Homo sapiens: one gene and its partner. The protein of the gene in region 1 interacts with the protein of each later gene in a pairwise test. Each region holds a gene or a part of one and is shown in the gene's direction. Other genes may lie near its edges.

The links. Proteins that work in one complex are often made in the same cells at the same time.
Region 2: the proteins of ZNF451 (region 1) and PRMT8 interact in a two-hybrid assay, tested with the Homo sapiens proteins (one large-scale study listed by BioGRID and IntAct).

Annotation. Positions count from the first base shown.
Region 1 is NC_000006.12:57,163,188-57,166,687, forward strand, and holds part of ZNF451 (E3 SUMO-protein ligase ZNF451), read left to right. Parts: intron 1-3,500. UniProt on the Homo sapiens protein: E3 SUMO-protein ligase; has a preference for SUMO2 and SUMO3 and facilitates UBE2I/UBC9-mediated sumoylation of target proteins. Plays a role in protein SUMO2 modification in response to stress caused by DNA damage and by proteasome inhibitors (in vitro).
Region 2 is NC_000012.12:3,588,703-3,592,202, forward strand, and holds part of PRMT8 (protein arginine N-methyltransferase 8), read left to right. Parts: intron 1-3,500. UniProt on the Homo sapiens protein: S-adenosyl-L-methionine-dependent and membrane-associated arginine methyltransferase that can both catalyze the formation of omega-N monomethylarginine (MMA) and asymmetrical dimethylarginine (aDMA) in proteins such as NIFK, myelin basic protein, histone H4, H2A and H2A/H2B dimer.

The DNA of each region.
Region 1 (3,500 bases):
CATTTTTGTAGGCACTGTTGTATGGTCAGTGCCTTTCCTAGATTGTCCATCTTTAGACACAGCCAACCACTCTCTATTCTGGGCTCCCTCTGTACCAGGCCAAGTGGATTTAAAATACTTCTGTCTATAACTTTCATCTCTGCTGACTGTAAGCTCCTTAGGGAGTAGGATCATGTTTTATTTATCTTTACTTCAGCAGCACCTAGCACAGTGTTTGGCACAAAATGGTTGCTTGTTAAATGAATAAACTTTTTTTTTTTTTTTTTTTTTTTTTTTTTTTTGAGACGGAGTCTCGCTCTGTCGCCCAGGCTGGAGTGCAGTGGCGCGATCTCAGCTCACTGCAAGCTCCGCCTCCCGGGTTCACGCCATTCTCCTGCCTCAGCCTCCCGAGTAGCTGGGACTACAGGCGCCCGCCACCACGCCCGGCTAATTTTTTGTATTTTTAGTAGAGACGGGGTTTCACCGTGTTAGCCAGGATGGTCTCGATCTCCTGACCTCGTGATCCGCCTGCCTCGGCCTCCCAAAGTGCTGGGATTACAGGCGTGAGCCACCGCGCCCGGCCTAAATGAATAAACTTTTAACAAACTTAAAACATGTTAGAGCCACCAGGACCCATTTCCCTATAACTGGATAAGGGAAATTAAGATAGAGGCTATTTTGTTATAGAATATTGGGTTATTTTGTTGACCCTGAACCACAGAAGCAAAATAATGTTCTAGTCTAGACCTGATAACAAAACTCAAAAAAAATTTTAAGCAACCTCTTAAGTGTCTTTTTATTCCTTCCTTTCCCAGTACAACTCTGTAAATGCCTGAGAAATAGTGGCAGAAGACAGGATAAATCTGCTTATGGCTTTTTGCCTTAGGGTAATTCCCTCCTTCCATGATTTGTGTTATTCTTTGTTGTTCCTCATAGACCAATATCAAACTCTGACCACGCAGGCCAGTCATAACAATCCCATATAATCTAGTTCCTTGTACTTGACAGAGGAAACAGATGCCGCATAATGTGGTGGTGAAAAGTACAGTCTTTGGATTCATACTGCCTAAGTTAAAACTCTGCTGCTTACAAGTTGTGTAATATTGGACAAGTCACTTAACTTCACTGTGCTTCAGCTTCCTCCTCTTAAATATGGGAATATTAGTATACCTACCTTACTAGAATAACATGACATATGATAAATAGTATATATTGGTTGCTGCTAATGTTACTGGGATTATGATGATCATTATGCCATTATTTACTTATATGTTCATCTAAGGTCTACTCTAGAGGTATGTCTGTTAACTAGAGGTATTCTGACTCAAATTGCTGGAAGAGACAGAGGACAGCATTATATAGATAATTTTCTTTGCAAAACCATCTTTCTGTAAATGTTAGCAATATGCCTTATTCTGAGAATTCCTTCAATTAATAGCAGTCAAAACTGCTCTTAATCTTAACAACTTGTGAGAGTCAGACTATTCTCTTCATTTTATATGAAAACTGAGGCTTCTAAACATTAAGTAATTTGGCCTTACATCCACAGTTTTAAAATGATTGGGAACCATTTCTATATGTCTTCTACCTCCTACTACTGGTTGTTTTTGTTGTTTGTTTGCCATAATTACTGCTCTCAAAGTAAATGAAATTAAGGCAGAAAGAATGGTAAGGGGAACACAGAGCTAGCCACAGAATAGAAAAACAAAGACAGATTTTTCACAATTGCTCTTTATTTTTTCATATGGCTTCAAGTTACTGTCTGATGTCCTTTAATTTCAATCTGAGAGATTCTCTTTAGCATTTCTTGTAGGGCAGGTCTACTAGTAAATTCTGTAGCTTTTGTTTATCTGAGAATTTCTTTAGGAATAGTTTTGTCAGATATAGAATTCTTGATCGACATTCTTATTTTCTGGTCTCCATGGTTTTTTATAAGAAATCAGCTAGTAATTTTATTAAGGCTCTCTTGTATGTGATGAGTTGTTTCTCTCTTGTTGTTTTCATTGTCTTTGGCTTTTGACAGTTTGACTATAACACGTCTCAGTGTGGGTCTCTTTAGAGTTCATTGAGCTTCTTGGATATGTAGATTCACCTCTTTCATCAAATTTGGGAGTTTTTCAACCATTATTTCTTCAAACATTCTTTCTGATCCTATTGCACTTCCCCTCTTGAGACTCCTGTAATGCATATGTTAGTTCACTTGATGATGTCCCACAGGTCCCTTGGACTCTGTTTACTTTTCTTCATTTTTCTTTCTGTTCCTCATACTGGATGATTGATTGATTGATTGATTGATTTAGACTGAACTCAAACCAAGACACACACTGGATAATTTAAATTATACTATCTTTAAATTTGCTGACTCTTCTTTGTACTCAAATTCATTAAGCCCCTCTAAAGATTTTTCATTTTAGTTATTGTACTTTTCAGTTCCTGAGTTTCTATTTGATGGGCTTTTAATAATTCTGCCTCATTATTGGTACTCTTAATTTTGTTCATACATTTTTTTCCTGGTTTCCTTTAGTTCTTTGAACATACATAAGACAGTTGGCTTAAAGTCTTTGTCACCCATGCTATATCATGTAGCCTGTTGCTCCTAGTCTACAAACCTGTATAGCATGTTATTGTGCTGAATACTGTAGACATTGTAACATAATGGTAAATATTTTTGTATCTAAACATAGAGACATAAAAATACATAAAAAATGGTATACCTGTATAAGGTACTTACCCTGAATGGAGCTTGCAGGATGGGGAAGTTGCTCTGGGTGAGTCAGTGAGTGAGTGGTGAGTGAATGTGAAGGTCTAGGATGTTACTGTACTCTACTGTAGATTTTATAAACACTGTACGATTAGGCTATACTACTTTTTTTTTTTTTGAGACGGAGTCTTCCTCTGTTGCCCAGGCTGGAGTGCAGTTGTGTGATCTTGGCTCACTGCAACCTCCGCCTCCCAGGTTTAAGCGATTCTCCCACCTCAGCCTCCCAAGTAGCTGGGATTATAGGCATGTGCCACCACGCCCGCCTAATTTTTGTATTTTTGGTAGAGATGGGGTTTCTCCATGTTGGCCAGGCTGGTCTCGAACTACTGACCTCAGGTGATCCGCCCACCTTGGCCTTCCAAAGTACTCGGATTAAGACATGAGCCACTGTGCCTGGCCTATACTACATTTAAAAAAATTTTTTTTTCTTCAGTAATCAGTTCACCTTAGCTTACTGTAACTTGTATAAACTTTAAAATTTTTAACTTTTTGTCTCTATTGTAATAACACTTAAAACACAAACACTTTGTACAGCTATAGAGAAATATTTTCTTTATATCCTTATTCTATAAGCTTTTCCCTACTTTTAAATTGTTTTATTACTTTTAAAACTTTTTTGTTAAAAACTAAGACACAAACACATATATATTAGCTTAGACCTGCACAGAGTCAGGATCATCAATATCACTTTTATAAGTAGCAGTACCCTCTAAAATAATAATAAAAAGTATAGTAAATACATAAACCAGTACCAGAGTTT
Region 2 (3,500 bases), on another chromosome or scaffold:
CACTTCAAAATGTAGAAGAAAAGCTGCCTAAAGCCTAGAATCAGAGAGACTGTGATGGGGAAGGGAACTGTGGGAGGGAGAAAAGGGGTATGTGGGGCCAGAATGCTAAGAGCAGGGAGGCATCTTCAGAATGGGGAAGGCTGAAAGCCAGTTGTACAATCTGGATGGTCATAGATGGGGTTGGGGCAGGGGAAGGGAAAGCTTTCCTCCCTGACAAGGAGAACTCTAGATGTTGTCCACAACCCTTTCCTGAGCGCCCACCCTTGTGCACGGTGACATTCTGGATGTTTTCCAAGACATTCTCCACCAGTAGAGAGAGGCGGCATATCTTTGCAGACCAGAGCCATAGTTGATGGACTAATAAAATCATATACCACTCTAATGACCAAAGACTTGCCTGATGCAATGGCTTAGTAAGTCCCTAACATGGGCCTAATATGTTTTAGGTAGGGTGGCCATGTAACGCATCTTTCCATTAAGGACACGTATGCAGGTGAAAGGGAGACCTATTAATCATTATGCCAGGAAAACAGATGTGAACTGGAACTGTCCCAGGCACAGCAGGAGGTTTGATCACCCTTAGTCTATGATCCTTTCCCTTTCTCATCTCATCTCATCCTCACAATACGTCAGGAGGTGAATATCATGAGCCATATTCTGCAGATGTGGAAAAGGAGCCCCAGGTCACATCGCATGTCAGTGGCAAAGTGGACACTGGACACGGGGCTATTGTCACCTAATTAATGTCTTTCCCACTCTACCTTCCCAAAGGAGGTCAGGAGATGCACTGCGATTCAGCCATGGCTGTGTGTCTACGTCACCTGCCCCTCCACGCCCCCCAGAATTACTGACTTCAAATCTCTTGGAGTAGAATCAAAACATTGACTTTTACTCAGCTTCTCCTGGGCACTTTGATGGAGAATCAGGATTGGGAAAACTGGTTTAGACAATTACTCCATGGCTAATGGGCCCATCATGGAAACGAGATGTTTATGGATGTTCTTAACCCTTTGATGTTGATATCAAGGAAAATAATCATCTTCCTCCAACTCAAAGTCGGCATGTTTTGGGGACTACCATCAGAGGCAGACCCCATGGCTGACAAATCTGGGCCAGGAAGTCTCTGGGGGTCTCATAAGGCATCGGATTAGGTGACAGAAGGAGGCTGCTTGAAATCCCTTTGCCTGAAGGTCTTTAGGAACAGGAGAGAGACACCTGTCTGAGCTGGTGTAGGTGGAAGTGGGGGCGAGAGTGCTGTCAGTCATACACTGACAGTCTCCACACATAACCAGGAACTATCTTTTGACTATTTAGAGGTAGCTGGGAGAGATGGTTGTTGGGAGCAGGTGGACTTTGTCTGCAGACAGCAGTATGCCCTGAAGGCCAGAAAGGCTGGATGTGTTCAGGAACCCAGGCAGGGTCTGAAAGGGATAGACTGCACATTCATGATCCTCCTTCCCTTTCCAAATGTGCAGGCTGCACTTTCTCCCCATGACCTTGAGTTTGCATCGATTTCCCAAATGCACACACGGAGGGCTACTTGAGTCTCTCTCCAAACCACTGACATTTGATCAAGCCAGTTCATTGTGAAGGGCAGAGAAAGACAGACTCTTCAGTGCTGTTAAAATTGGCCTTGGGGTTTTGAAAGCTCTTAGAGGTCACCTGGTCTGAGTCAGTGCATGATCAAGCCCCAGTTGGCGCTGTGTGAACACCTGCCAGGGTGGACCTCAGGTGGCTCATATGATTGTGGGACAGCTCTAATTCTTGGTAAATTAAAAATCTGCCTTCTAATCATGCCTAGTGACTAGCCTTTGTTCTGCCCCCAAAGCCATGATAAGGCCACATGTAAGTCTTTCCATGTGACAGCTTTTGAAGTGTTTTGAAGACCCTTATCTTATCCCCAAGTCTTCTCATCTTTATCCTTAGTCCTAAAAAAAAAAAAAAAAGAAATCCTGGTAGAGGAATGCAACAGCCCAAACCAAGAGGAACTTCCTGTAATAAGATGGGTTCTTCTGCAGTCTGTAGATTCCAAAGGCCCCCAGGGTAACTGGAGTACATTGAACTCCAGTACGAGTACATTGAAGCACTACAGACATTTGCTCTTTGGGTTCTTACCATCATTCATTTATTCAATACTCGTAGATCTACCAAGCACAGAGGCAGGCACCGAGGAAGCAAGGCTGGCCCGGTCCCTGCCCTCATGGAGCTTGCAGTCCATGGAGGATGCAGACAAACGGGGATGGGGGGAAGGCATTTATCTTGTGTGACAGGCACCGCAATAACAGGAGCTCAGGGTGCCTTGGGAGCTCTCAGTCCAGGTTTTGCGGGTCAGGCAAGGCTTCCCAGAGGAAGGATGAGGAAGAGAGAGGCTGGAAAGGAGGGAGAGGAAGGATTTCAGAGACAGCTGCTGGCAAGGACGGTGGCCTCTGAGGCAGAACTCCTCACATTTAACTGGAGAATATATCGTGTGCTGAGAGGGGAGGGAAGAGACTCAATGGCAGATATGGGGGAGGCGCAAGTACCACTATGGCTTTGGGTCATACAGGATGAATGAGCTGTGGGCCAGCATTAGGGCTGTGGAACAAGAACCATCCCTCATTTCTTTCTGATCTGGTTAGGAAGATACACCTGAAACCCTACAGCAGGTCTGGGCCAAGGTGCTAGGTTTAGTTCCCCGTGCACAGAGAAGCAGGCAGGGAAAGCTCTTTTTTTTTTTTTTTTTTTTTGAGACAGGGTCTCACTCACTGGTTTGCACCCAGGCTAGAGTGCAGTGGTATAGTCACAGCTCACTGCAACCTTGAACTCCCAGGCTCAATGCATCCTCCTGCTTCAGCCTCCTGAGTAGCTGGGACCACAGATGTGTGCTACCACACTCGCCTAGTTTTCTCATTATGTTGCCCAGGCTGGTCTTGAACTCCTGGGCTCAACCAGTCCTCCTGCCTCAGCTTCCTGAGTAGCTGAGGTTACAGCTATGAGCCACTATGTGTGCCCAGCAGGAAAAGCTAGTTGTAAGATTGAGGACCAAGTACCTGCCATATCAGTGGATCTGGGGAAACTGGTTTAGCTGTGGAGTTTGCATGAATGATGTCATTTAAGGGGAGATAGGAGGGCCTACTCTACAAATCTCTTCCCCATACTGTCTGAAGATCTTCATTCTGTTGAACTAATTAAAAACAGCAGCATGTTCAGATGCATGTATGTCCATGCATTTAGTGGGTGACAGGGTATTCCTCATCCATCCCTTGCTATGAACTTGTAGTATCGGGTTGTTTGTCTTCTGATCCCCAGCACTGAGGAGATGGGGATGTGATGGGAGGAGAGGCCACTGGGACTGAGAGGGAGTTCTGATGGGGCTTGGAGGAAGGCTATAAGGACTATGCACCTGACCCAACAAGAGTACTGGGGTGGGTGGTTTCAGTGAGTCCCAGGGGAAGCCCAGCAACTTCTATGCAGGGTCCCAGCCTCATCCCTTTGGAGACTTCGTCTCTGACTCTTTCTTC